Linked DNA regions of Homo sapiens: region 2 is linked to region 1. Evidence: fine-mapped expression QTL. A gene starts in region 1. The other region holds a variant in brackets. All regions are shown on one strand. Distances are from middle to middle. Region 1 holds the start of TRMT6 (tRNA methyltransferase 6 non-catalytic subunit). Region 2 has its middle 26 kb from the start of CHGB.

Evidence for each region.
Region 2: its variant is fine-mapped to the expression of TRMT6 in whole blood (TOPMed, PIP above 0.99).

Annotation. Positions count from the first base shown.
Region 1 is chr20:5,943,872-5,959,695 of GRCh38, forward strand. It overlaps TRMT6 (tRNA methyltransferase 6 non-catalytic subunit), which reads right to left and starts at 6,662. Exons shown (of 11, transcript NM_015939.5): 1 at 6,407-6,662; 2 at 2,535-2,662; 3 at 934-1,043; 4 at 291-382; 5 at 77-160. The coding sequence starts at 6,534. It overlaps MCM8 (minichromosome maintenance 8 homologous recombination repair factor), which reads left to right and starts at 6,781. Exons shown (of 19, transcript NM_032485.6): 1 at 6,781-7,152; 2 at 8,140-8,292; 3 at 8,553-8,657; 4 at 10,737-10,819; 5 at 11,231-11,380; 6 at 13,255-13,358; 7 at 14,657-14,855. The coding sequence starts at 8,145. RefSeq lists an enhancer at 6,658-6,797.
Region 2 is chr20:5,877,621-5,893,444 of GRCh38, forward strand. It overlaps the pseudogene RNU1-55P. Among named protein-coding and RNA genes, the nearest start is that of CHGB, 26 kb to the right of the region's middle. RefSeq lists a silencer at 14,681-14,891. The variant T/C (reference allele first, on the strand shown) is at 8,424.

The DNA of each region.
Region 1 (15,824 bases):
TCATTTTACTTAAAATCATGACTTTCTTAAAGACATATTTCCCCCAATTATACTTTTGAAAGGAAACAAAGCGTACTTAATTTTTCCAGGTTCTCTTGCATAATACATAATTGAAAGAATACGGGTGGATGGCTTCACAACAGTAATGATGGCTTCATATCTGGGGGAAGAAAAAACAGAACGCTGATTTAAAAAAATGACTTAAAATATTTTATTTGTAATAAAATGTATATTTTATAAACATATAAGAAGTTTAATATTGTGGGCCTTTTAAAATAAAAACTACTTACTTTTTTTTCTTCTTTTTAATATATTTATCTTGGGCAAATTCTGTCTTGTCTCGGAATGTTGTACTATTTTCAATTAACTGCTGAACTATTTCCTATAAGAAAAGGAGCAAGTAGATTTTCTGAAACTTTACTTTCACAAAACAAGTAATTTCCAAAGGCTTCTTACCCAAGAATGGATCCAATGGTCTGATTCTCCAATCCCTTTTCCACAGAAGTCCAAATAGATGAACTTTATATTTCTATACTCTATTTGGAATTTATAATAAAATACAAGTACTTTATAACTCCACTTAAACCAACGTAAAAGAACAGAGATATCCAACAAAAGGAGAAGAGAGGTAAAGGAAACTAATTTCTGAAGACACTGGCTGAAAACATTACTGAAAATGAACAAAGTTAAATCCTGATATGCACTGTTATTACATTCTCTACCACTGACATTAGTAATGTCATTCACTTATATTCCTGTATATAAGACATAAAATCTTTGAAATGTTGAGTAACATGTACATTTCAACCTATTTCTATCAAAGCTATAACGTTATTTTTTTGTTTTACCTTAGGTACAGTCTGCTTTAAAAACCCAACAGTTTCCTAAATGCCAAACAGACAAAAACAAAACTAAAAATCCTTTGAATATTACCTCTCCTTTAATGCCCTTGTCCTTCAAAGCTTTTATGTCATCTTGAGTAAGTTTCTGAGATTTCCCATCATCAACTATATTTCGATTATCAGTGCCCGCTTCTTTAGTCTCTAAGGAAAGAAATTGCTCTATTGACATTTATGGTCTGAAATTATTTGACACTTTCTTTTTCTGAGTTCATATCCACATCCAGTCCATCAGCCACTCAAGTCTGGCCTCCCAGCTGCACTGCCCCCATCACACTATCCTTTCCTGCCAAAACTACTCCAAGCCTCTAAGTCATCTTCCTGCTCCCAGTCTTGCCCCCCTACTATCCACCTGGATGCCAGAGTGCTCTTTGTTTAAATGCAATTTGACTCATCTACCCCATGCTTAAAACCATACAGTGGCTTCCCATAGCAATAAGAATACACTCCAAAGATGACCTGCAAGGTCATAAATGATCTGGCCCCTGCCTATCATTCCTGGCCTGATCTCTTGACACTTTAGCTTCAGCCACAATGGCCTTCTTTCTGTTCCTTGAACACACCCAGCAAGGTCCCACAGCAGGCTTTTGGCACCTGCTGCTTCCTCTGCCTGGAAGGTTCTACGACAGATGTCTGAGTGGCTGGATCCTTTCTATCACTTGAGGCTGAGCTCATTCTCTTGCTTTACCAAATTAGTACACGCCCCTGCTTTATTATCTTCATAGCATGTGTCACTTCACCATCAGAAATCATGCTGTTTGCTTGTCTACTTGATTATTTTTGGTGTTCCAACTGGTAAGCACATTTTATACGACAGTCTATCTTATGAACTGCTATAATTGCAGCGCCAAATTATACCTGGCATATATTTGGTGCTTAGTAAAAATATGGATATTAATTTAAATGTATCTAAATAACAGGTTTGACTCAAAACTTTAACAGTATTTAACTTCAAATAATTACTTGTGTTTTAATTAATAAGATACTCTCAATGTTCATTTTAATAAATATAATTTTAATTAACAATAACAGCTTTTGGACAAGAGGTTGTTAAGAAATAATAATAGTAATAGCTAAAATTATGGGCCCTTACTAAAAGCAAGACACTATTCAGAACTTCCTATGAGTCATATCATAGAACACTCAATACAACCTAGGCATTAAATGTGTTTATGACCCTATTTTACATATATAAGGATATAAGACTCACAGAAATCAAATAAGTTGCCCAACGGTACAAGGCAAGTGATGAAGGTAGAAATTGAACTTAGCTGGATCCAAAACCAGACCTCTTAACCTCTACACCATATGCTAACCACCTCACAGCTGTTACATAACTTCTGGGCACTGAAAGAACTTTACATTATGTTCTTGCAATGACGCAGCAACGACTCATAGGATTAAATGCCTGGCCCAAGAACAGAGAACCATTTAATGGTGGGCTGGAGCCAGAATCCAGGTTATCTCATGGCCAAAGGCAGTACTTGCTTCACTCCACTGAGCTGCAGTTCTTAGATTATGAGTTAAGATTTCTTTTGGGATAGCATGGCCTAGCACTTGGGAATTAGGTGGAGGCTGAGATGTTTCTGACTAGTCAGTTGGAGAGCATCTATTTCACGCATCCAAAATGTGCACCTGCAGTAGGCTCTTCCCTCTTCTTCTTGGGCTGTAGACTTCCTCCACTGGTCACTTCAAATGCAGTTCCATAACTATGGCCAATGACGTTATCCAGGTAGAACCACTGTTTTTCGAAAGTTACTTTTCTAGGGAAAAAAAGTAATCAATTAACTGAATATCTTTTCTATCCAGTACAGAAAAGACATGTTCACTACAGTTTATTTCAAAAGTGGTCTCCACAATGGATGATCAGCAGCATTATCTCTGAACATAAAGCAACAAAGGAACTAGAGAGAACCTGGTTGGGATAGAGACGTAAAATTAATGAATAAGCCACAAGAACACTGAATTTTGGAAAGGGGAAGCAAAGACTCATCGAAGTAACAAGGATTTAACAAATTTCTTGGGCTTGGTCTGATCGGCCATTTTATTTGAAAATTATCTAATAAAAGCAAATTATACTTGCAAATAAACACTGACAATCTACACACTTGGAAATGGAGCCTAACACTGACAATGCTCTACTGAGGACCAGGCAACTTGAGGTTTCCTATGACATAGATTTTTTATCTTATTGCAATTTAAAAGAGAAATCCCACAGGAACACAATGCTTTCTTCTCAAAAGAAAACTAACATCTGCTGAGTGCCAACCAGGGGCTAGGCAGTGTGTGCGAGGTGTGATTCACACTTTTTGATTTAATTCTCACGGTAATCCTGGGACATAGCTCTTTCCAGAAGAGCAATCCGAGGCCCAGGGAGAAGTATCTTGTCCAAGATTCACAGTTGCAAGGTGTTGTTGGAGCTGGGATTCAAATTCAAATCTGTGTCTGACCCCAAGCCTCATTCTTTCCACTATACCACACGGTCTACTCCAGCAAAGACCTAAGGACGGTAGAAAGCCCACCTAGCTTCAGGACATGGCCCATGTGCACAGAACACTGAATTCTGGGAATCATGTGGTGGTTAATTCTGATTGTGCCCCATCCCACTCCTTCTCTTCCTTTCTCTGTGCCACCAGGAAGCTGATTACGACAGAATATACTGCCACATCACCCACGCTCCCGTGTCAGAGGCTTACCACCATTGCTGGTCTCTGGGTGTGTCACCTTTATTGGTTCCCTAAATCGGCCACACTTTTGAGTCACATCTTCATTAAAGCTTACTCAAACCATCTGAGGGAAATCCTGTATGATCGTAAGTGATTCAGATATGGCCAATTCTTGTTATTTGCTGGGTCCCTAGATACTTACATACAACAGAATGTAACAGACACTCAAAATATTTGCTAATGTAAACCTCCTCAGATGTTGCAATTCAGCTCAGCCCAGATGTGCACCCCCTATCCTCATCCTTTAATCACCTAGGTGCTTTGAAACACTGGATCTGGCCAGGTGTGGTGGGTCACACTTGTAATCCCAGAACTGTGGGAGGCCAGGTGGGTCACTTGAGTCCAGGAGTTTGAGACCAGCCTGGCTGACGGGGAAAAACTCCGTCTCTACAAAAAATAAAAAAATTAGCCAGGTGTAGTGGCACACACCTGTAGTCCCAGCTACTTGGGAGGCTGAAGCAGGAGGGTCACTTGAATTCAGGAGTTTCTCTACAAAAAGTACACAAATTAGTTACTGAGGAGGCTGAGGTGGAAGATTGCTTGAGCCCAAGAGGCAGTGGTTGCAGTGAGCCAAGTTCACGCCACTACACTCTAGCCTGGGGGACCGAGTGAGATCCCGTCTCACAAAACAAACAAACAGACAAACCAAACAAAAACACTGGATCTGAGATGGGTGGGTTTACCTCTCTGAGAGCCTATGTGATATGCAGAGGGGATGATGCGTGTCACTTAAAACTGGCTGGTTTGACAGGTCACTGCCCCAGTCGGGAATGTGGGGCCCCGTTAGAGGGATAAGGAGGCCACATCTTTACTGGGAAGGAGTAGGATTTGCAGAGTCTACTTCTCAGAGAGCCTGGACTGTTTTTTGCCCAATCAGATGAGTGTAGCCCCAAGGGTGATGAGGGAGTCTGACCTGGGATGCAGCTGAGCTGAGAGAGTCATTTCCTAAATAAAATGGAAACTGCCACTATGACTTCTGCGAAGAAGAGGGCCTGTTGAAAAGTATTTCCAAATAAATGTTTAGGGCAGTGGTCTCCAACCCTTTTGGCACCACAAAAGGGGAAGGTCAACTACTGTTCATGCCTGTAATCCCAGCACTTTGGGAGGCTGAGGTGGCCGGAATTACTTGAGCCCAGGAATTGGAGACTAGCCTAGACAACATAGTGAAACTCTGTCTCTGCAAAAAAAATTAATTAGTTTAAAAAAGAAAAAAAAGAAGAATTTAAAAATGGTTAAAGGTTGGTGCAGGTATTACATTTCCGGACTAAAAGAAACATACCCCTCATAAAAGAAACTTTTTATCTTTACTAAATTAGTGCTTGTGCAAAAAGCTTGGTTATCACCAGCTTAGTGCTCTGGAGACTTGTTTCTTGACTATTTTATGATGCTTGCTTCACCTTAAATACCAGTCAACAGTTTGCTTAAACCAGGAGTAAAAGAATTCATCTGAAGTAAGTACTTATCAGAAATTCCAAATCTCATACTTCCCAGTCTGCAGAAAGCTGTTCTCCTGACATTGCATTCAACTTATCTCTGTCAAAAGTAATACAATAACCTAGCTCAAAAGAAACTGTGGCCAGGTGCGGTGGCTCACACCTGTAATCCCAGCACTTTGGGAGGCCGAGGCGGGTGGATCACCTGAGGTCAGGAGTTCGAGATCAGCCTGGCCAACATGGTGAAACCCCGTCTCTACTAAAAATACAAAAAAAAAAAAAAAAGATTAGCCGAGTGTGATGGTGCCAGAGTCCCAGCCACTAGGGAGGCTGAGGCAGGAGAATCGCTTGAACCTCGGAGGCAGAGGCTGCAATGAGCCGAGATTGCACTACTGCCCTAAAGCCTGGGTGACAAAGCAAGACTCCGTCTCAAAAACAAAAACACTGTGGTTGTATTTCTCAGATAAATTAATCCAAATATCCCAATAAATTTTCACCATTAATAAGCTCTTAGGACTTAACAACCTCACCAGCCCTTCCAGAAAGTTATCAAAATCCCACTTCTTTACTTCTATAAAACAGAGCGATACTAGCCAGCAGGTGCACAAACCAAACCTAATTTGGAGTTCTGAGGCCTTGAGCAAATTGCTTTTTAGCAATTTTCCCAGCGTTGAATCCTTTGGTGAGTAAAACGAGGGAAACTCAAAGTGATTCCACACTCTGTGGTGAATTGTCTCCTTCATCTATTCTGTGTATCCTGCTTGGGTAGAGAAGAGGATAGAAAGCCAGACTAGGTAGGAGACGTTTCATTTTTTGTGGGATAGATCCTGACTGGGGGATTAGGGAAGAAGGAGGATCTATGGTGGAAAAAAAGGGGGAACCTGAAGGAGACTCTGGAGACAAGGATGAGATCCTAAAGTGAAGAAAGGAGGGGGTGTCTCTGGAAAGACAGTGAAGATCCCAAGGTCCTAGGGAAAGAACTTCAGGACAGGTGATTAGGGTGTGGAGAGGGAGGCATTGGCACCCTAGGGCCAAGAATGGAATTCTGGGGAAGGAACTCTGTGGAAAGACTGAAAAGGATGCTGAAGGTGGACGGCCAGATATGAAATCATGGAGGGGGCTCCGGGAAAAACAGGAGGGTTAAGGGAGATTATGAGGTTCGAAGACGGGATCCTGGTGGAAAAGCCTTCTGTGACAGAAAGACCCGAGGAGACAACGAGGGCGGGGAATGGGGACCGAGAGAGCCAAGAATGGCACCCTGGCGGAAGAATTCTGTGGAGAAACCTGGAGGGAGGGGGTATCTACAAGGTGGGGGCGGGAGACCCCTAAAATCAGCGATCTGACTTACTTTCTCCGCTGGACTTGTACTGCTTTAAACACATCTTCACGTTTCAGCACCACGAAGTCGCCGTCGCGGATGCGGTGGTCTCCGGGATGCTGTGGTTGTGGGCCCGGCTGCTCCCCTGAGCCCTCCATGACGCTCAGCCGGTCGCCGTGCTCCACGGCGTCCCGCCCCTCCTCCTCGGTTGTCGCCACCGCCAGCCTCACTTCCCACAACCTGGCGCACTAGGAGCCCTCCGACCGGCACCGCCCCCACGTGTTGCACGCCGCTTCCGCTTTCCGGCCCAGACCTCAAGACCGCTTCCGGAAGCCTCTCGGCTTCCGTCTGGCCAAACTCCTTGATTGGCTGCACTCCGCCCCGCCCCTCTCGTCTTGCCGCTTCTTTGAGCGGAAGTTGGATCACTGAAGCGCCAAAAAAGAATTTAGGGGAAGACCTGATTTTCGCTTGAGGCATTTTTGCGGCGCTGTGCGCTACAGACACCTTCTGGAAGCTGCGGTGGGGAAACTGAGTTTCCCGAGCCGTTGAGACAGATGGGGTTCAGCACCGCGCGGGGACGACAGGAAAGCTGCGGCTGAAGAGAACTGCGGACTTGGCAGGAGTCGCCTGAGGAGCTAAGATCCCGGAGACTCTTAGCCCCGTGGTGCTTCTCTACGGGAGGGAGGGAGGGAGAATCCGGCCGGACAGATCTGCGCGTATCCTGGAGCCGGCCCAGTTGTGAACTAGGAGAGCTTTGGGACCTCTGTCCCAAGCAAGTAAGAACTTTAGCCTTAGGAGATGTAAATAAAGTAGTATTTGAAGAAGCACAGGTACCCAACTGTTTCTTTTTACTCTTTCTCCAGTCCTACTTCTTAACGTTTTTTTGAATTTGTTACTGTTCTCAGCATATTGTCTCGTTTGAGAAGGGTATGGCACGCAGCGTTGTTGAAGGAGCGCCTCAGCTTGGGAGGCTGAAAGTTTTATCTCTGTACTGTCGACAAACAACTTTGATCTTGATCGGTTTGCTTAATTTCTTTGAGCATCAGTTTCATAATGTGTAATGCCTAATTATTGGAGCCCTGTCATGCCGTTAAATCGTGAACTTTCTAGTTACTATCTTGTTTTATTAACTAAACCCCTTTTAAGTAAGGATTTGGGTAGAGTATTTGATAATGAATTGCACTGCAGCGTACAGGTATATCTTTATTTACTTGTATACTTAGGATATGAATCATTTTTAAGTAGACGTGTATTTTATAAGAACAGTTTTGGATTTACAGAAAAACTGCACAAAAAATGGATGTGACACTGCAGGATTGACTGTATGTAAGAAGCTATGATGATGTATCCCTAGTGTCTCACAGGCCAGAATTATGTTCATCCTGTCCTGCCCTATAATAAGAAGTCTCAAATACTGCAAATAAGTTTTCATAGAGTTAATTACCTGTCCTATTTTCATTTCTGTAATGGGGACTTGTAAACAGGTACAGTACCTGTCCTTATTTTTAACCTGTGAGCGTCTAGTATACGTAAACCATATTTAATAGTTATTAAACTATTATGGTATACCTTAAAAAGCGATAGAGATTAGAAACTTAACTGCAGAATATTTGGGTCTTGTATCATAGCTGTACAACTTTGCAAGCCTGTTTGCTACTCTTGAACCTAGAATACATTAATTTTTCCCTTTTTATTAATACATTTTTAAGAGCACTATTTTCCTTACAGTTTTGGTGAAGACCTTTTTAATATCTATCTTTTAGGAGAGATGAATGGAGAGTATAGAGGCAGAGGATTTGGACGAGGAAGATTTCAAAGCTGGAAAAGGGGAAGAGGTGGTGGGAACTTCTCAGGAAAATGGAGAGAAAGAGAACACAGACCTGATCTGAGTAAAACCACAGGAAAACGTACTTCTGGTAGGTGAGGTCAATGATTGTTCAATTTTTTTCACTTAAGGAAGCAATTCACGTCTATCATACAAGGCGGTTTATCTCATACTTCAGTTTGTCTTTTATTTCATGCTACTCCTTAGTAAGTATTTGAACATTGATGTCCCAGATTTTTACTAAAACCCCTAATTTGGATACTCTATTAATGAGAGTCTCATTTGGAAAGAGAAGCATATTGGAAAAATGTTCACTCTGTTTCTACTAACCTAGTATTTTATTTTTTTCAGAACAAACCCCACAGTTTTTGCTTTCAACAAAGACCCCACAGTCAATGCAGTCAACATTGGATCGATTCATACCATATAAAGGCTGGAAGCTTTATTTCTCTGAAGGTAGGGTTTAAAAAGTACAAAAAAGCACCATAAATCATATTTTCTTAACTTGTCTTTGGATGCTACATCTTGTATTACTGTAATTCATTTACTAACATATACCTGCTTTAATCTTAGTTCACCCAAACAATTAAATGATGTTTATGTTTCAAAAGCATTTTAGACTTTATATCAGTCAGGAAAGCAGAAACCATACTAGGTATTTCAAAAAGGGGACTTAATACAAGAAATTGGATACAAAAATGGAAGACTGAAAGAGCAGAAAGGAAATATTGAGGTAACTCCCCAGAAAGTAGTAATTCAGGAAGCAGCAACCATCCTTATGGCTAAGAGACTAAAAGAAGTTCTGAGGTTACCAGAATGTGGGAATTCAAAGGTTGGAGAGGTCACAGCATAGCTGTTATTTTGACTTTTGAGGGGCACCCTACAAAGCTATGCTTGGACTTCTGAAGGCTACCTTACAGAGCTGTGCTTAGACCACTAAGGCAAATGAAGCTGGTTGCCACTGGTAACTGAGGGGGCATGACTCAGTGGTGCTTGGAACTGGAGGCTAGCACTATCGTTATCTTCTGCAGCTGCAGAGATGCTGAAAAGAGTTGGAAACAAGAATAAATTCCTTTCTCTTCCTGCCACCTTCCCGTCTCTAAAGTGCCTTCAATTGGCAGAATTTAAAGAGAATCTGAGACATGTAGGGTACAGATCTGAATTATAGCATCGCAGAGCAGGAAGTAGAACAGTGGGCCTGAAATCAAGGGACAATAACAAATACAGCTTTGTGTAGAAACACAGGTAAGGAATCTCCCTTTGATAATTAGGAATACCAATTAACCTACATCAGTCTGTATAGGTGCAGGGAACTGTCTTTTTTGTGCTGTTAAAATACCCATTTGTTTCTTATGTCTCATGAGGGGTGTGTGTGTGTGTGTGTGTGTGTGTGTGTGTGCATACTTTTTATTTTTTTTTGAGATGGAGTCTTGCTCTGTTGCCCAGGCTGAAGTGCAGTGGCGCGATCTTGGCTCACTGCAAGCTCTGCCTCCCAGGTTCACGCCATTCTCCTGCCTCAGCCTCCCGAGTAGCTGGGACTACAGGCACCCGCCACCACGCCCGGCTAATTTTTTCTGTTTTTAGTAGAGACGGGGTTTCACCGTGTTAGCTAGGATGGTCTTGATCTCCTGACCTCGTTATCCGCCCGCCTCGGCCTCCCAAAGTGCTAGGATTCCAGACGTGAGCCACCGCACCCAGCCGCATACTTTTTTTTTTTAGGAAAACTAGACGTTTGAGGTCCAGGACCCTCCCTGCCCCATACCAGGCATGCAGTAGTCATTTTGTGAATGAATAGAGTACTTTACAAATGTTTTCTTTATTGGAAATCTGTTCGTTTTTTTCCATCAATAGAATCTGTTTCATGAATGATCTTTTGTTCCTTTAGGATGTATTAGCCACCAGCACTCCCATTGCTCCCCTAGCAGATAGCTCAGAACACTATAAGTGATCTTTGGACAGTCCTAAAGATGGAGTTCAAGAGGTGCCTTAGCCTTCACCATCTGTGCTTCCAAACTACTTTATTGTACTGTTCTTCTGTGAGAGACATATTTGAAAATGTAGAACTTTAGAGTGTTAAAAAAAAAAAGGCTTTTCAGTTTTGCCACCAGGGTCAAGTGTTGGTCTGTCTCCTGATCTCAGGAAAGACTGTGATTGTGATTGTCTTCAGCTCTGTCAGAGTAAGAGCTTAGTTTATGTGTCTGGCTTTGGCTTTATTATAATTTTTAGTTTAAGCTTATTGTCTAAATTATCTGAACTAACATGTCCTATTAGGTGTCAAAGATGCAAAACAAAGTTTCCCAGATAGTGGGGCTTTTAGAGAGAGAGAGTTTCTGTCTGCATTTCACATTATGCAAACCTAAATTTGTTTTAGAATCTTAAGTTTACATTCTATACTAGTTCTTATATGAATGTAATCAAAATACAAAGCAATTAGAAAAAAATCATCTACCATGTATATAGTGCTGCTTTTGTCTCATGAAAAATGTGCATGTACCTGTGTGATTATTTGTGCTAATGCCATATTTGTTGGATTAGTTTACAGCGATAGCTCTCCTTTGATTGAGAAGATTCAAGCATTTGAAAAATTTTTCACAAGGCATATTGATTTGTATGACAAGGTAAGATTCCTCTACAGCAAAGCTACCAGTCATGTGCCATCTTACCAATGTATTCGAGGTACTTGTGATTATGATCGTAGGCACTGGAGTCAGACTTCCTTGGTTCAGACCTCAGTTCTGCCACTTACCTGCAGTATGGACTTTGATTAATTACTTCTCTGTGCCTCAGTTTTCTTTCATTTGGAGATAGAGGTATAAATACCTACCTCAAAGGATTGTTAAGAGGCAGTAATACATTAATATATTTAAAATATCAGAACCATGCTTGGCACAAAGCTTATACTTATGTCATACTTACCATTATCACATATAAACATTGTATGCTTTCTCAAAGTCTATAATAGAATGCTCAGTTAATGGTAATTGACTACAGAAAAGCAATTATTGTTTTCATACTTTTATATTTTATAGGATGAAATAGAAAGAAAGGGAAGTATTTTGGTAGATTTTAAAGAACTGACAGAAGGTGGTGAAGTAACTAACTTGATACCAGATATAGCAACTGAACTAAGAGATGCACCTGAGAAAACCTTGGCTTGCATGGGTTTGGCAATACATCAGGTAACTATTTGTCTTATGCATACTTTTGTCTAAACTTTTTTAATGTTTGCACACACATGCACACCTTGTCTAAGTTTAAAGGAAGATTTTACAGTGACTGTACTTTCTATAAGAGATACTTAGCTTTTACGAAAAGATGTTGGCTAGAACTGAGAGGTTGCAGTTCCGTTCTGAAAGATACCATTCATTCTATATACAACAGCTTATCTAAATGAAATATTTACCTCCAACTTATTTGGATTTGCTTAATCTTGCTAAAGATTGTGCAGAAATTAAACTTTGCTTTCAAGAAGTTATACAATCTCATAGGGAAGATAAAACAAGGAATCATGGTGTTATCGGTTATGAACTTAGAGCAAAAAAGAGCAACCTTAGATTTAGGTTCTGTGGCATGAAGCAAACCACTGAGTGTCCCTGTATATCAAATGTAAATAACAGTTTGTACTGTGCTTGCCTGAGTTTTTTTTCAGGGTCAGGTAATACAACATATATGAAAACATTTTTAACTTTTTAAATTTTTTAAATTTATTTTTTATTTATTTTTTTGAGATGGAGTTTCACTTTGTTGCCAGGCTGGAGTGCAGTGTCATGATCTCCGCTCACTGCAACCTCTGCCTCCCGGGTTCAAGTGATTCTCTTGCCTCAGCCTCCCGAGTGGCTGGGTGCACCACCATGCCCAGCTAAGTTTTGGAGTTTTAGTAGAGACGGGGTTTCACGATGTTGGCCAGGATGGTCTTGATCTCTTGATCTTGTGATCCGCCTGCCTTGGCTTCCTAAAGTGCTAGGATTACAGGCATGAGCCACCTTGCCCGGCCAAAAACATTTTTTAGGCTAGCAAACAGATACATGCTTCAAGGTAATGAATAGCAAATCTCAGGACAGGCATACACAAAGTGCTGGGGCATTCAGAGGGGCATTCTTCTACCTCTTGCCTGTGCTGTCCATTCAACATAGAATCCCCTTCCCTTCACATGGACAGATTATTTGGGCCTAGCTCAGTTGTCTGTCTGTAAAACCTTTCTCATGACCACTTTTCGAAACTTGCATGGTATTTTGTCTGTACATCTTTATGGTCCTTATGACAATTACAGCTGTATATATGCATCTTATTTTGCCTCTTAGGTTGCCAGCAAACTGCTGTGTACAAGTGGTATTAAATGTTTGTTTGTTGTTTATTTATTTATTTATTTTGAAATGGAGTTTTGCTCTTGTTGCCCAGGCTGGAGTGCAATGGTGTGATCTTGCCTCATTGCAGCCTCAGCCTCCCAAGTAGCTGGGATTATAGGCATGCACTGCCACACTTGGCTAATTTTTGTATTTTTAGTAGAGATGGGGTTTCACCATGTTGGTCGGGCTGGTCTCAAACTCCTGACCTCAGGGGATCCACCCACTTTGGCCTCCCAAAGTGCTGGGATAACAGGTGTGAGCCACTGCGCCCAGCGTGTTTATATTATTTAATGTTAAATGCCAAGGGAGTGAGTATTAGGTATTTTAAAGGTCATTTTTATTTTCTGTGTCTTGATTGGTCAGTGAATATAGAGAAATAGGAATGCATTTTTTTTTTTTTAATTAGTATCAAGAGGTGATGGTTTTGGGGACTAATGTAAGGGCTTTTAATGTTAGGTTTAGTTGGGACAGAAAGTAGCAGACTGGGATGCTGGAGTTTTTCAGCACAGGGACAGCAAAATCCAATGTAAAACATCCACTATAAAGTAAGTAGTCATAATTAAATATTAGATATTTAAAGGGCTGTTAAAGTTTTCTGTTTTTATTCTGTTTCTGTCCATAAACTTTATATTCTCTATAAAAATAGAGTTCTGTATAAAGAGGATGTTTTGTTTTCCAACTTCAGAGTAAATGTCTGTCCTGTTTAGGTGTTAACTAAGGACCTTGAAAGGCATGCAGCTGAGTTACAAGCCCAGGAAGGATTGTCTAATGATGGAGAAACAATGGTAAATGTGCCACATATTCATGCAAGGTGAGGAATTTGATGTATTAAAGTATTACTTAGAATGGGACATTGAAGGCCATTTAAGAATGAAAACGCTCATTTTATAAAAATGAGGAAATCAGTAAAAAGGACATGAGTTCCTTGCCATCTCATTGATCATCACACTGAAATAAACTCATTGAAAATTATTCAAAGACATCATGACAGATACTTCCTAAATAAGGAAGAAAATGTTGATTTCCTAACCTGCAGATTTTTGTAAACATTGGTTTTGGATGTGAACTTATCAAGACCCTGCTGTGTAAGTTTAATAATCCATGTATGGGTTGAGTATCCCTAATCTGAAAATCTGAAATCTGAAATGCTCCAAAATTCAAAACTTTGAGCCCTGACACGACACTGAAAGGAAATGTTCATTGGAGCACTTCAGATTTTTGAATTAGAGATACTCAACTAGTAATATTGCAAATATTTGGAAGTCCAAAAATTCCAAAATACTTCTGGTCCCAGGCATTTTGGATAAGGGATATACTCAGTCTGTAATACACTAAGTGTTCTTTGTTAAATTATTAGGTTTTTGTTAGATACAAGGGAATAATGAAATTATTTTGTTTTTCTTGAATTCATCTTTAAGATTTTAAATTCATTAGAAGAATTCATTATAAGGTAATCATCAGCATTTTGTTTTTCTTTTCCAGAATTTATAGAAGAAAATTTCCTAGCAGTTCTTTAAAAAGAACTTAGAAACCCAAAGGTTTTTGAATCTGTAGATTTTCCTTTTGGCATTATTTTTTTCCTTAAATTTCTTTTTTCTTTTTTCCTTGAGAACAGCCTGTGAGACAAGAAGAAAAAGGAAGATTTAGTGTTGTTTCTTGTTAAGAATGGTTTGGCTGGGCACGGTGGCTCATGCCTGTAATCCCAGCACTGGGAGTCCGAGGCAGGCGGATCACGAGGTCAAGCGATCGAGACCATCCTGGCCAACATGGTGAAACCCTGTCTCTACTAAAAATACAAAAATTAGCTGGGTGTGGTGGCACACACCTGTAGTCCCAGCTACTCGGGAGACTGAGGCAGGAGAATCACTTGAACCCGGGAGGCAGTGGTTGCAGTGAGCCAAGATGGCACCCCTGCACTCCAGCCTGGCAACAGAGCGAGACTCCATCTCAAGAAAACAAAACACAACAAGAATGGTTTAATTCTTGTGATATTTCTGATATATCGAAGGGATGATTTGATTTGAGAATTCCATAGTTGCTCCTAAAAGGAACTTGTGAAAATATAAAAAACATCAATTTTCTGTTCATTACTTCCTGTTTTGTCTTTAGGGTGTACAACTATGAGCCTTTGACACAGCTCAAGAATGTCAGAGCAAATTACTATGGAAAATACATTGCTCTAAGAGGGACAGTGGTTCGTGTCAGTAATATAAAGCCTCTTTGCACCAAGATGGCTTTTCTTTGTGCTGCATGTGGAGAAATTCAGAGCTTTCCTCTTCCAGATGGAAAATACAGTCTTCCCACAAAGGTAATACGTTCTTTAACTGCTTCTTTATTTATCTTGGTAAAGAAGGCAAATCAGAATACAGAAAACATTTCCCAGTGTTTCTGAACACAGAGCTTATTTTTATTTTTTATTTTCAATTTTCTGCTTTTATATTATGAAATACTTCAGGGTAAGAAAAATACAGAAATAAATAAAACATTCCACTACTCATCACCCCGAATTTACATTTTTCAGCTCCGGACACATTTTTTAATGATATAAAGCATTACTGGCACAATTAGTGTCTGTTTTTTACCTATACCATTCCCAGGGATGATCATTATCCTGAAGTTATTATAATATGCATCCCTTCCATTCATATTTCTGTTGACTTCTAGGTATACACACCAAGTTTTTTTTCCCCTTTATTTCTTCTACTATTTAGAAGTGATGGGTTTTTTAAATCTTTATTAGCCTTTATTAAACTGGATTTTAAAACTATAGAAAAGTGCAGAGAATAATGTAATTAACATTTATCTACTCTATGATTTGGCAAATATTAATATTATTTTAGCTTAATTTGTAACAAAAATATGGTTATATAAAGTTGAAGTCTTTCTGTTCTCAGTTTTATTCCCTTTATTTGCTCCCTAGATGCAACCACTATGCTGAAATTGGCATGTATTCTTCAAGTTTACATTTTTATTCTTGACTACATGTGTAGAGTTAGTTTTTTGTATTGTGTTTACGTAAATGGTATCCTGAATGTAACACGCAGCTGTTTTTTTATTTGGTTATTTTGTAGTTCTACCTATTTTAATACATATCAAATTCTTTCATTTTTACTATTGTGGAGTGTTGCTTTAAATAAATAGCCACAATTTATCCATTTTCCTGGAGGTAGACAATTGTGCTCTTTCCAGTTTTTTATAAGAACAAATGATACTGCAGAGAACATTCTTGTACATGTCTCCTTAGCAGAGGAATACTAAGTTGTAGGCTGTACTTTTT
Region 2 (15,824 bases), 66 kb before region 1:
GCTAATTTTGTATTTTTAGTAGAGATGGGTTTTCTCCATGTTGATCAGGCTGGTCTCGAACTTCTGACCTCAGGTAATTTGCCCACCTCGGCCTCCCAAAGTGCTGGGATTACAGGTGTGAGCCACTGTGCCTTGCTGAGAATATTTTTCAATAATATTTCTTTATGAACATCTATCACTTGGATCTGCTACATATTTTTCTTTTTCTTTCTTTCTTTTTTTTTTTTTTTTTTTGAGACCAAGTCTTGCTCTGTCACCCAGGCTGGAGTGCAGTGGCACAATCTCAGCTCACTGCAATCTCCACCTCCCAGGTTCAAGCAATTCTCCCTACCTTAGCCTCCTGAGTAGCTGGGATTACAGGTGCCCGCCATCACACCCAGCTAATTTTTGTATTTTTTAGTAGAGATGGGGTTTCTCCATGTTGGCCAGGCTGGTCTTGAACTCCCAACCTCAGGTGATCTGCCCGCCTTGGCCTCCCAAAGTGCTGGGATTACAGGCATGAGCCACCATGCCCGGCCTGCTCACATATTTTTGAACACCTTTCCACATTTAGATATTTCCCAGCCTTGGGAAACACCTTTCCCAGCTTCCCCTGTCAATGTGCTACACACACAGGACTTGGCTCTGCCAACCAGACACAAGTGTGAGGCTGAGAGATGACCTGTGAAGAAACAGGCAGGGCATTTGGGCATCCATTGTGTTGAAGCTGAGGCAATTGGAAATAGCATATTTCTGGAGGGGTGGCAACAACAGCTTCTCGACTGTGGCAGAGGTGGTGTGATTCAGGGCTTGGTGAGGGTGAGGGTGGTTTCCTGACCAGGATGAAGGAAGCCTCGTACAGAAGTCAGAGGCAGCCACATTTCCCTTGCCATTCTAGTTCTGTGGTGTGAGCTGGAAAGTTGTTGCTATAATCCCAGCCTATAGCTTATTCCTGTAGCCCTTTCAACATTTTGATGCATTTCTAGCAAATCCCAGTTCCTTAAATTAGCTAGAGTGGTGTGGGAAACCAAAATATGCCACCCCAAAATATACTTCTTTGGCATATTTCAAGTTGGTTATTTGGAAAAGCTGCAGATGGGAATAGCTCTGAAAAAGCTACCCTCCTGTAAAAGAAATTTACATCTATCTACATTAGTAAAGCAAACAGGAGATGCAGGCACAGGCTTTCTCTGAGGTTCTCTTATCCATATCTAGGAAAGAGTAACTCACAGGAAAATGAGACTGGTGGTCTGACACTTTTATCTTTGTTTATTTATTTATGTTAGTTAGGGTCTCACTTTCTCACCCAGGCTAGAGTGCAGGGGCATGACCATGGCTCCCTGCAACCTTGAACTCCTAGGCTCAAGCCATCCTTCCAACTCAGCCTCCTGAGTAGCTTGGATTATAGGCACATGGCACCAAACCCAGCTAATTTTCTTTTAATTGTTTTAGAGATGGAGTCTTGCTATGTTGCCCAGGCTAGTCTTGAACCTCTGGCCTCAAGCAATCCTCCCACCTCAGCCTCCCAAAGCAGTGGGATTACAGGTGTGAGCCACCATGCCCAGCCTGATACTTTTAAAGGTCTGACAGAGAAACCTTTACCACAGGCTGCCATCTATTTTGTTCTCAGGACTACTGTCTGAGAGATTTCATCTGCATAGTAAGACAGGCTTTGCTTGACTTGCCTTTCTTCCCTTCACCCTCCCATAACCTGTTACCACCTATCCCCAGGAGCCCCAAGCTCCTATTTCTTTCCATATGGTATAAGAACTTCAGTCATCTGGCTCTTCTTTGAGTCTCATATTTTGTATGGCTTCTGTGCATTTGCATGTAAATAAATTTATATGCCTTTTCTCCTATTAATCTGTCTATTGTCCATTTGTTTTACAGACCCAAATTATTGAACCTTCAGAAGCAGGGGGAAGAAAAATTCCCTTCACCCCTACAGTGGATTCTGTTGTCTGCAGGTGGTAACGCTGGTGGATAAAAATCTCTTTTTGAATTATCAGCTATATGTCGGTCTTGCCTATTCAAAAATAAACAAAAATGTAATTTAAAAATGAATAATGTAAAAGGGTGTGATCTAAATCTTCCCCAATCCCTGTTTAATGTCTGTCTCCCAAGCAGTCCCTCTCCCTCCTGACCTTGACCTCTCATTTTTCCCTGAAGCACAATCTTGAGCCCTGCTTGATCCGTATGAAACCGCTATTTTTGTTGGTCAAAATAGCCAAGAACTAGCAATTCCATAGTCTTCAACTTCACACTTGCCATTTGTATTAGTCTGTTCTCAAGCTGCTAATAAAGACATACTTGAGACTGGGTAATTTATAAAGAAAAGAGGTTTAATTGACTCACAGTTCCACATGGCTGATGAGGCCTCACACTCATGGCAGAAAGAAAATGAGGAGCGAAGTCACATCTTACGTGGTGACAGGTAAGAGAGCTTGTGCAGGGGAACTCCCATTTATAAAACCATCAGCTCTCATGAGACTTATTCACTACCGTGAGAACAGTAAGGAGGAAACTGACCCCATGATTCAATTATCTCTACCTGGTCCCTCTCACTGCACGTGGGAATTATGGGAGCTACAATTCAAGACGAGATTTGGGTGGGGACACAGCCAAACCATATCATCATTCTTTGGAATTTATCTTCCCTCAAAACTCCAGCTATTATTCATCTGCCAATTTTCAAGTCTTTACCAAGTTTCTATCCTATATAACTCTAATTTCCCATGGAACATTCTACTCATATGTGTCCTTGTCGCTTTAAAGAAAATGTATAGAAAATCAAATGTATCCTCTTTCCCACAAGTTAATATTCTCATTTGATGCCTCTAATCTATCCATGGCACTAACATTTGCTGTCACTCAGGCTTGACGAAGTGTGGATTCATTATGACTTTTACTTCTAAATGTCTCACTGTATACAGCAAGAAGTGGTGGTTAAGAGCTGAGACACAGGAGGCGGCCTGCCTGGGTGTGAATTTTGACTTGGCCATTTATTAGTGTATGTCCTTGGGCATGTTATTTAACCTGACTGTGCCTCAGCTTCCTCAACTGTAAAACAGGAATAACAATAGTGCTTAGTTCAGGAGGCACAAATGAGTTCAGATTTTTACAGACAGTTCCTGACTTATAGCTCAACTTAAGGTTTTTTATCTTTACAATGGCATGAAATCATTCAGTACACTCCTCAACTTTTGATGGGATTACAATTTCATAAACCTATCATAAATTGAAAATATTCTAAATCAAGCAACTTAAGATATTTTCAATTTATGATGGATTTATCGGGATATAACCTCATCTTAAATCAAGGAACATCTATATAGTATTCAGAACAGCACCTAGTATATAGTGGTTTTTTTAAATTTGTTTGTTTGTGATGAAGTTTTGCTCTTATTGCCCAGGCTGGAGTGCAATGGCTTGATCTCAGCTCACCGCAACCTCCGCCTCCCAGGTTCAAGCGATTCTCCTGCCTCAGCCTCCCAAGTAGCTGGGATTACAGGCATGTGCCACCACGCCCGGCTAATTTTGTATTTTAAGTAGTAACGGGGTTTCTCCATGTTGATCAGGCTAGTTTCGAACTCCTGACCTCAGATGATCTGCCCGCCTCAGCCTCCCAAAGTGCTGGGATTATAGGTGTGAGCCACCGCACCCAGCCAGAAAGCACTTTGGGAGGCCAAGGTGCACAGATCGCTTGAGCCCAGGATCTTGAGACCAGCCTGGGCAACATGGCAAAACCCTGACTCTACAAAAAAATACAAAAAATTAGCTGGGCTGAGAGGCGTGTGCCTGTAGTCCAAGCTACTTGGGAGGCTGAGGTACGAGAATCACCTGAACCTGGGAGATAGAGGCTGCTGTGAGCCATGATTGTGCCATTGCACTCCAGCCTGGGGGGCAGAGTGAGACCCTGTCTCAAACACACACACACACACACACACACACACACACACACACACAACCTCTTACACCTGCCTTGTCTTTTTCTTCCCAACACCATCACCTGCATCATTTTCATCTCCTTAAGGACCTCCTGAAGGTTTTCCCTGCTGCCAGTTCTCCCCTTTTCAGCCTCTTCCATTCACTGTTGCTACCACGTTGATTTTCCCAAATCACCGAGGGTATCCTATCTCATCCCCCACAGAAAGCTCCTTAATGCCAACAAAAGGAAGCCCCACCACAGGTCCACACTGATCGAACCCAGATGTCCTGCCCTCTCCACATTTCTGAGACTGGACCCGCCAAAACATTCCTTTCCTTCTCTAGCTCCCACGGCTCTACCCAGCTACTCATTTGCACTTTAACTGCTACACAGCAGGACTGTCCTTTAACTGTTAACATGTGTACATCTGCCTTCCTTGAACAGGCAGAAAGTTCTTGAAGGCTGGAGAGCTTATACCACCCATACCAGGCACAGAGTAGTGCTGGGTAAATAGCAACCAAGACGTAATTTTTTTCTGTATTCACACTTCCTTTTCAGCTTCCTGGTGGAGTCAGCTTGACAACATCTTTCTCTTTCCTACAACTGAAACTATAATTTTAAAACCAAGAGCAAGGGGCCAGTGTCGGAGATGGGTTCGTACCTTCTGAAAGACATCATGGTGGAAGGAAGAGTCCAGTTGCAGGCGTGAGAGGCTAAAGCACTTCCATTAACGAGCAGGGTGTCCAGTGAGGCTCATCTACCTCCTCTGAACTTCATTTCCGTGTCTGCAAATGAGGACATTAACAAAGCTCCCGGTCCCCCTCAGGCTTAAACGTTCTGTGACAAATCTCTAAGAGGGTGGATTCGGGAAACTAATTTTCAAATTAATTGAGCAGTGTGGAGTTATTGCACGGAGAATTAAACTGCTGTCCATAACAGTTCATTTCCTGAGTTTGTTTATCAACCACTGTTTAATAGGCACTATTTATTCTGCAGTATCATGGGTGGAGTGCTATGGAGACACAGAAGTTGTATCTCACCAGATCCATAGCTTCAAAAAGTTTATTATGTAATTAGAGTTTATTATATAATAAAAGCTCACCAAGCTCATGATCTGGCAAATGGCATTGTTTGTTTACCTAAGCCTTCTTTTGTAAAATAAGAAAGTTTTACTTGAATCATTATGTATAATACCCCTGGGAGCTGTGTGTTCTATGTGTCATTTCTATGTTATTTTATTTGAAATACACACACACACAGTATGTTTCAATGTAAACATATGCATTTAAAATGTATATTTTTAAATATCTCCATCAACAGGCTGATTTTTAAAACTTTTCAATATACCAAATAATGTAGATTTTCAAATATACACAAAAATAGAGAGAATTGTATTATGAACTCCATGTACTGATCACCTACCTTCAACAGCCATCAGCTTTCTGCCATTCTTTTTCAGCAGATCCCACCACCACCTCCCTCTGTGTGTGTGTGTGTGTGTGTGTGTGTGTGTGTGTGTGCGCCAAGACACTGCTCCTCAAGCTAAGGACTCTTTTGTTCAATTTCCGATCTGCCATGGACCAATACCAGCACACAGCTCACACCCAAGCCACACATAACACACTATGCAGGTTTGACAACACCCAAACTAAGTTCTATTCTCATTAGAGTCCACCACTCACTACTTGGATGCCATGGCAATGTCAAAGTACTATAGCCATTTCTAAATATTTGTTGTCAATTTCTGCACTTATTACAGACCAAGAGCACACAATTTGCAAACTGGCCCCAATCCTCAGACTTTGAGTAGTACTGCATGCGCTAGAGTATTTTAAAATAAAATCTACGGCATTATTTTATTGCAGCTGCAAATTCAGCATGTATCTCCAATGGATAAGTATGTTTTTGTTGTTGTTGCTCTGTCACCCAGGCCGGAGTGCAGTGGTGTGATCTTGGCTCACTGTAGCCTCTGCCTCCCAGGCTCAAGTGATCCTCCCACCTCAGCCTCCCGAGTAGCTGAGACTATAGGTATGCACCACCACACCCGGCTAATTTTTTTGTATTTTTGGTGGAGAAAGCATTTCACCATGTTGCCCAGGCTGGTCTGGAACCCATGAGCTCAAGCAATCTGCCCGCCTCGGCCTCCCAAAGTGCTGGGATTATAGGCATCAGCCATGGTGCCCAGCCTTGTACTTTTTAAAAACAACCAGAATATAATACTCCCAAGAAAATAATCAATAATTCCTGAACATCATCTACTATTTAGTCCATATTCAATTTTCCCCAGTTGTCTCAAAAATGCCTTCTTACAGTTGGTTTGTTTGAATCAGGATTCAAACAAGGATTTTGCATTTGGTTGACATACCTTTTAAGCCAAACTATAGTAGTCTCTCTCTCCTTTAAAAGCTGCTTTTAAGCCACTCTCCAAATAGATTGGTTTACCATTAACTATAAAAGGTTTCCTGACCCATATTGCTTCAAGCAGTTTTTCCATGCATTTGCTTTGTGCCACAGTGTGACTGTGGCTTAAAAACCAATTACTTCTTCCCCCTAAAAATGCCCATTATCTGTGCCTATTAGAGGCACATTTACATTCCCCAGACTTTTTGCCAGGGCACCAGAACTATTTAGATTACCATGTATTAAAAAAGTGCCAGTCACTCTCACTGTCTTATCACCTCTGGTTCTCTTTGTCTCCAATGGGCCCATTCATTGAGCAGATATCTGTGCATGTTGTTAAATGAACCATGGATGTTCTTGCCCTTGATGTACCAAAGCAGTGTTTACCAGGTACATTCATTTCTTCGGGGACCTATGCAGACATATAGTGGGCATAGTGGGAAAGTGAGGAACTGAATATGACTTGAGATACTCAAGTGATTTGATTTGGACCAGACCCATCTGTGGCTGTCACACAATGACATCTTTTTCCATACTCGTCACCACTAAGGCTACAGGAGCTCAGGTAGCTTTGGGTCTTCACTGGCCAACATTTTAGGAAGAATCATAGAAAAATCATAGAACAGAAAAATAATCTCAGCAACTATGCAGTCAAGCCCCCGAAGGGTTGGAGACAAAAGCCCCCACAGCTATCTAGATGCCTCCTGGACAAGGGCCCAGGTCTCTGACCTCCAGAGGAAGCTCTGTGTATATGGGATATCAATTTCTATGCCACTCAGGGTTCTCAGTTGCACATAACAGAAGAGGATTCTGGCTGACTTTAATAGAAGGATAGTAGGTGGCTAATAGAATTGACAGGATGGGTAACCAGGTTTTGAAATCAGGCAGGCTCTGAGGGAGGCCAGGCAGCAAGGACACAGCCTAGGCCATGCTTCAGGGGCAGTCTGGGTAGGATGTCCCTAACTGTGGCTCTGCTGCCACTCTGGCTGCTGGACATCAACACAACTGAACACAGGAGCCAGATGCTGCGGCTGCTTGAAATTCTAAACTATCCCTGAGTCTAAATTAAAAGTCCTGGTGTAGGCAAAAGAAAGAGAGATCAGACGGCTGCTGTGTCTATGTAGAAAGGGAAGACATAAGAAACTCCATTTTGACCTGTACCCTGAACAATTGCTTTGCCCTGAGATGCTGTTAATCTGTAACTTTGCCCCAACCTTGAGCTCAGAGAAACATGTGTTATATGGAATCAAGGTTTGAGGGATCTAGGGCTGTACAGGATGTGTCTTGTTAACAAAATGTTTACAGGCAGTATGCTTGGTAAAAGTCATCCCCATTCTCCAGTCTCGATAAGCCAGAGGCACAATGCACTGCGGAAAGCCGCAGGGACCTCTGCCCTGGAAAGCCGGGTATTGTCCAAGGTTTCTCCCCATATGATGGTCTGAAATATGGCCTTGTGGGATGGGAAAGACCTGACTGTCCCCCAGCCTGACACCCGTGAAGGGTCTGTGCTGAGGAGGATTAGTAAAAGAGGAAAGCCTCTTGCAGTTGAGAAAGAGGAAGGCCACCGTCTCCTGCCTGCCCCTGGGAACCGAATATCTCGGTATAAAACCCGATTGTACATTTATTCTATTCTGAGATAGGAGAAAAACCGCCCTGTGGCGGGAGGCGAGACATGTTGGCAGCAACGCTGCTCTGTTATTCTTTACTCCACTGAGATATTTGGGTGGAGAAAAGCATAAATCTGGCTTACATGCACATCCAGGCATAGTACCTCCACTTGAACTTATTTGTGATACAGATTCCTTTGCTCACATGTTTTCTTGCTGATCTTCTCACTATTATCACCCTGCTCTCCTACCGCATTCCTCTTGCTGAGATAGTGAAAATAGTAATCAATAAAAACTGAGGGAACTCAGAGACCGGTGCTGGTGCTGGTCCTCTGTATGCTGAGCGCCGGTCCCCTGGGCCCACTGTTCTTTCTCTATACTTTGTGTCTTATTTCTTTTCTCAGTCTCTCGTCCCACTTGACAAGATATACCCACAGGTGTGGAGGGGCAGGCCACCCCTTCATCCTGGGTGGGAGCATTTGATTTGCTGAGACTAGATAATATGACTG[T/C]CCTCTAGTGGCCAGGGACCAGCAAAAGGGCATCTGGCTCCGCTCCTTTCTATAGTGGGAAGTAGATCCTGCCTGCCTTCATGACCACATCACAGAGGGAAGGGCATTAGGATGCTAAGTAACCCCTACAACCGCAAATGACTATTTCACCTCCCCATTTGGACTTCTGTGAGCATATAGACATCACCAACAGTTTTGTTTTCGTTTTGCTTTTCTTGAGACAGGGTCTCACTCTGTCACCCAGGCTGGAGTGCAGTGGCATTATCATGTCTCACTGCAGCCTCTGACCTCCTGGGAACAAGCAATCCTCTAGCCTCAGCCTCCTGAGTACCTGGGACTGCACGCATGAGCCATTATGCTTGGCTAGTTTTTTATTTTTTAATTTCTTGTAGAGACGAGCTCTTGCAATGTTGCCCAGCCTGGTCTTGAACTCCTGGGCTCAAGCAATTCTCCTACCTTGGCCTCCCAAAATTCTAGGATTAGAGGCATGAGCCACTGTGCCTGGCAGTTACTTTATTTCTACAAAACATGGAGGCATTTCCTATCACTCCTCAAATGAGTTACACCCCCCACAAAAAGCACTGTTCTAAGTGCTGAGTTTGCAAAGGCTTTAACCTCACTGAAGGGGAAAGAATTTCTTCTTCTGTCTCGCTAGTTCACTGATTGCCTCCTTCTGGCCCAATGTCTGGGGGAAAACCAAAGATCAATGTGTCCACTTGACTTTTGCTCAGATGCTTAGTGTGCAGTTAGCTTCCAGGAGCATGGAAACTTCTTCTCCAAGGGTTCCATTAGTGATTAGACGTGCACTTTAAAGTATGTCATGCTGCCACGTATCAGACTGGGACAGAGATGAACTGGAACATGAGAGATGTGTTGAGGTGACAGCCAGGATTCTGCCATTGTTCTTTCAGTGTATTTCTGATGCCTCTCAAATTCCATAAGGGGAGGTGTTGATGTCTGTGGTTAAGTAACATGAGGCCAGAGCTGACGCTGTGGCAGCTGCTCCCAAAGGCACAGAGTTTCTTCGTTGCCAGGAAAAGATGCCCTTGAATTTTCTGGGCTGAGGTAAGAAAGTTTGGCAGATCCTGCCTTCTCTGCTTTCTGTTTGCCTTAATGGATATCAAGATAGAAAATAAGGAGCCAGAAGGACCTTCAGAGAATCTATTCACGGCCTGTGTGTCTTAGGCTCCCCCCAGAAATAGACTCTCCGGCACAAATTCAAGTGCAAGTAGTTTATTTGAGTGGGAAAGCAAGGAACTGAGACAGGAGAGGGAAAGAAGCAGTAAAAGGTACATTATCAAGCAAGTTACCACTGTGGGCATCTGGAACTTAAGCCTACTGGAGCCAGTGCAGATTGTAAGCTTCAAAGTTATCCTGCAAAAGGAGTAAGGCAGCTAGGGTATTTAAACACCAGTCCCCATCCATCTTTGATTGAAGGCTGAAACTGGGAGGGCACTAATTTCCAAGTGCTTCCAGCTTGCTGTGTGAATGGGCAAAGCAAGCTCTGGCCACCAGACAAAGCCCTCGGGCAAAGAGGCAGATGCTGGCAGTTGAAAGTCAGGTGCTGTGGCACAAAATGCTAAGGCCCGAGGGGGCATGGGCAGGGCACCCAAAACATCTGCTGTACTGTGTCCACTCTCATCCTCCAGACTTGTGGACAAACTTCCTGTTCATCATTCATTCAAAGCCCAGCATAAATCTTCCCAGAATCATCCGGGCGTGGTAGCTCACGCCTGTAATCCCAGCACTTTGGGAGGCCAAGGCAGGCGAATCACCTGAGGTCGGGAGTTCAAGACGAGCCTGACCAACATGGAGAAACCCTGTCTCTACTAAAAACACAAAATTAGCCTGGCTTGGTGGTGCATGCCTGTAATCCCAGCTACTCAGGAGGCTGAGGCAGGAGAATCACTTGAACCCGGGAGGCAGAGGTTGTGGTGAGCCAATATCGCACCATCGCACTCCAGCCTGGGCAACAAACTCCGTCTCAAAAAAAAAAAAAAAATTCTTCCCAGAATCAATCAGGAGGTGCACATCCTCCACCAGATTCCTAATTGGTACAGGTGGTTTATTTCACTATTTACTGCTCAATAACTCTCTACCCGTGTTGCAGAGTCACTCAGGTTTAATCTTCTTTCAACCCTGCCAGAAAACTCATCAGCAGCCCACAGACCCTGACCACAGCCCTGGCATAACTGAATAAATGCTGACTAATTGACTAACTCTCATTTCCTTCTATTCAGCAAATGTCCTGGATATTTGGAAATGCCACAGTTCACAGCCAATGCACTTTCAGCAGGTCCTGAAAAATGATTTGGAGAGGTTTACAATTTGCTAAATGTGTTGAGTCTGGGATTGGTAGAGAACCATGACCTTGGGAGAATAGAATGTTTCTCTTCTCTGGGACATAGGTCGGGTTCCTTCGGGACTATGGATAGAATTTGCTTAAACTGTGGGTCAGCTAGTTGTGAGTTGGCAACTTGGGGATGTCTGTGAGAGGCTGGGATTGTGGGGAAAGCAGAAACACTTGCTTAGTTTTGTCTGGTGTGCGAATATCCTACTAAGATTTACTGAAGGAATAGAAAGACCATCTGAGGTTTCCCATGTGATCTTATATTAATGAAGGGATATCTTTGAGTCTCATGTCTTGCTGGTTTTCATCATTCATTTTTTTTTCTTTTTCACCCTGAGTATCAGCCTTTAATAGAAATTGTGATATCTCAGGATCAGGTGGTTACATCAAAAAGAACCTTAATAGGTCACCTGGGCAGTCTCTCAGTCTCCAGGCTATACCGTGCTTAAACTATTCCTAACAGGACGCTGCTTATCCACCGTCTGGAAATTTTTCCAAAAGTGGGGTCAGGCTGGGTGCAGTGGCTCACTCCAGACCGACCAGCCTGGCCAACATGATGAAACCCCATCTCTACTAAAAATACAAAAATTAGCCCGGCTGGTCTGGCTACTCGGGAGGCTGAGGCAGGAGAATCGCTTGAACCCAGGAGGCAGAGGTTGCAGTGAGCCGAGATCTCGCCATTGCACTCCAGCCTGGGAGCAGAGCGAGACTCCATCTCAAAACAAAACAAAACAAGACAAAACAAAAGGGGGTCAAAGAAATGCCATCTGCATTATCAGCACATATAGTTTTCTGCCCAGATCATAAAGTTTATAACATCTGCCTTATTTATATCAAATATGTCATCTATGTCAATGTTTACAGCTATATCATTTATCTATAGGCTGTATCTTATAACATCATTTGCCTCTATATTTACACATACTCTGCCTACATCTGTGTTCACAGCTTTATCATCTACAGCTACATTTTCATCTTTACTATCTACATCACCTATACCTATGCTTATATTACATCATTATCTACATCAACATTTTTATCTACACCTTCTGTACCAGTGGTTCTCAACTGGAGAAACTTTGCCCAGGGACATTTGGCAACTTCCAGAAAGACTTCTTATTGTTACAACTCAGGGTTGGGGGAAGAAATGCCCTCAGCATCTAGGCCAGAGATGCTGCTAAATCCCAGGGATACTGCTAAATCCTGCAATGCACAGGACAGTCCTTGACAACAAAGATATATCCGGCCTAAAATATCAATAGTGTTGAGGTTAAGAAACTCTAATCTACATCACCTACCTCATCTGCATCCATATTTACAGCTATGCCATGCACATCTGCATCTATATTTGCATCTACTCTATCTAAATCTGTGTATATATCTACACCATCTACTCTACATTGGCATCTACGTAGTCGACAGCTACCTCTACAGCATCTACAATATCTATGTCAACTACATCGACGTCATCCACTCCATGTACATCATCCACATCTACGGGATCTAAACTTTGCATGCACATCTATATCTAATTATATAGATGATATAACAATCAACACATGCTTGTTATATCAAAATGAGTGGTCCTTTTAGACTAGAAAGCAAATCTAATTTTAATTTTTCCCTCCACTGGCCACACACATAAAACGTGAGTGGAACAGATCCTTACCTGGCAGGGGAGATACCATGATCATGAAGGTGGTTTTCCCAGGGTGAGGTTCCACTGCACTCCAGAGGTGCTGATCCTGTGATTTCCCCAAATGTGGGAAACGCAACTGCATAATTTGTGGCAGTGGGAACTATGTTCTCACTATCCCCTGTTTTTGTTGTTGTTGTTGTTGTTTGTTTTTTGTTTTTTTTGAGACGGAGTCTCACTCTATCACCCAGGCTGGAGTTCAGTGGTGCAACCTCGGCTCACTGCAAGCTCCGCCTCCCGGGTTCACGCCATTCTCCTGCCTCAGCCTCCCGAGTAGCTGAGACTACAGGCAGCCGCCACCATGCCCGACTAATTATTTTGTTTTTTTTTTTTTTTTAGTAGAGAAGGGGTTTCACCGTGTTAGCCAGGATGGTCTCGATCTCCTGACCTCGTGATCCACCCACCTCGGCCTCCCAAAGTGCTGGGATTGCAGGCATGAGCCACCGCGCCCAGCTCTCCCACTTTTTTAAAAAAGGGAGTAGAACAGAGGCCAATCATTGTCTATTATACTCCTTAAAGTATAAGAGGCATGAGCTGTTTTCCAACTTTGTCCTTGCTAGCAAACACCTCAATATTGTTGGTTTATGGGCTTTGATAAGCAACGAAGGAGGCTTCCATTTTGATTTGGGTCGAAGTGAGAAGTTAAACACGTGCCTGATAAATTTCATTCCTGCTCTGTCTTTGCTTGCCAGCATCCCGGGATGAGAGGGCATCAGATGCAGAGACACTTGTGTCACAATTCATCACAATGGTGATAAAGAATAGTTTCTTCTCAGAAGAGCGATCACTGCACTTAGAGAACCTGATATGGTTGATCACATCTTGTTCCACCGGAACTGGTCTGGGCTGGAAAACACGCAGTTGACACATGGGAAGCCGCAGATGCTGCTATTTCACCCTGGGCTCTTTGGGCCTCAGAATAGTAAAAGACATCTGATTCCATGACCAAAACAGCAGCTCGGGTTGCCACGTTCAGTTAAGCTTCCTTAGGTACATGAGCTGATTTGTCAGCCAAGATAAAAGTCAAGTGATGTTTCTAGATGAAATTGAGAACACGGGAGATAGACAAACAAGAGCAAATCCCTGTGGCTTCTTTAGCCTGTGACATTTACTCAATAACTTCGCTTCCTGGTAGAAACCCATGCCTCCTGGAGACCATTATTTTTCCTCCAGGAACAAGATTGGCCTGAGGCAAAGTTTCAAAACAGACTCTTACTCACCTTTTTATATTCTCATTTTTTGTAGTGTTTTCAAATTCTCAATAAATATTAATACTAATACCTAGAACTTGGAAATGAGAAATCGGAAGTTATTTACTCATTATTCTGGATTTAACATTTTTTGTTTGTTTGTTTGTTTTGAGACTGAGTCTGGCTCTCTAGCCCAGCCTGGAGTGCGGTGGCACCATCTCGGCTCACTGCAACCTCCGCCTCCTGGGTTCAAGCAAGTCTTGTGCCTCAGCCTCCCGAGTAGCTAGGATTACAGGTGCCCCCTACCACGCTCGGCTAATTTTTGTATTTTTAGTAGAGACAGGGTTTCACCATGTTGACCAGTCTGGTCTGAAAGTCCTGGCCTCCAGTGATCCACCTGCCTCGCCCTCCCAAAGTGCTGAGATTACAGGCATGAGCCACCGTGCCTGCCTAGATTTAACTTATTTTAATAAATAAGAAATATTCTGTCTAGTAGTATTTACAAAGAACTATAACCTATTGCAAATATCCAAACCTTGTCAAAGGCTAGCAAACATTACTAAGTAGTTTTTGAATCAAATCTAGCCCAGCAAAGTTAACAGCATTACATAGAAATCGCAATTCAAAATCATCAATTTATAGATTTTTTTGCTTCCAAAAGTTGTTATTTCTTGGAACATCACTCTTAGGGTCTGTGTAAAGTATGCTATAAAAAGTGCAAAGTTCTTTTTTCAATTTTATTTTTAAAACTTTCTCTTTGTTTTTTTGAGATGGAGTCTCTTTCTGTCACCCAGGCTGGAGTGCAGTGGCACAATCTCGGCTCACTGCAACCTCTGCCTCCTGTGTTCAAGTGATTCTCCTGCCTCAGCCTCCTGAGTAGCTGGGACTACAGGCACCCGCCATCATGCCCAGCTAATTTTTATACTTTTAGTAGAGACAGCGTTTCACCATGTTGGCCAGGCTGGTCTCAAACTCCTGGCCTCAGGTGATCCACCTGCCTCAGCCTCCCAAAGTGCTTGGAATACAGGTGTGAGCCACTGCACCTGACCTAAAAAGTGTAAAGTTCTTAATATTTATTTTATTTGCAAAAACGCCTCCCAGTTAGCAGCAGACAGGGCCAGGAACACATGCTTGTAACATGGTATCAGTTATAAGCAAGGCAGACTGATCAGCCCATGGCACCTTCTCTACATGTGCTCCCTGCCTTGCTCTCAGAAACGTTGACCTCAACCTTCAACTGCTATGTCAGTTGATCTTGCCTTCAGTGGATCCCTCGATGAATCTCTCAAACCACTGGGGCCTCTGCTGATTGTTAAGCTTTAATTCTCGCAGAATTGCAATACATTTTTTCCATTTTCTCAACTGATTTGTCTCAGAATTTGGGATGTAGAAGAGTATATAAATTGTCCAGAAATGCTGGGAAGGAATTTTCTCATGGCCACACTACTCATCACGTCATCAGTGGGGACTCCCTCTTTCCTGGCCTGTTGCTCTGACCACCCAAACTTCCCTTCTACCTGGTCCGTCTCGGCTTACCCTTTTCCCTTAATCATTTAAGCTTCAAGGATACACACTCCCTACCAGAAAAACTCCAGGATTCTCCAGGCTGGACTTTAGACTTGAAGAGAACAGCAATCCAACTGAACTATTTCACCCTGAAGTATGAATAACTAATATGCCTTCTGTAGGAATTAGAAGCATAATCAAAATAACAAATATTTCTGCAAGTATGGGAAAAATAGTCCAACAAAGCATTCCCTTCAGCGATAGCAGAAGCAAAGGTTTTCAAGGGCCACCTAGATGATAAACTGTGGGCACTGGGCTGGATGTGAGACCGTAAAGAGTGGTGGAGACAGAGTGTGGTCAAACTTCAACTAAAGGCGTTTGAATTCAAATGTTTAAGACAACCAACCAGTAAGAGCCAAACATAACTCACTTTAGTGACAGCCAAGCTTGGCCCTCAGGCTACTAGTTTTTTATCTCTCTGTTGAATACTCCAGTGAGATATGGGCCTAATGGAAGCCAATTCTTGTTGCTAAGCCAACTTCAGATCCCAGAGAGTTAGAATCACAGATTAAAACGTTCTAACCACCATAATTAAAAAAAAAAAAACCAAATAGGTAAAATGTCATCATTTTTAATGTTAGACTTTTAATAAATTTAGT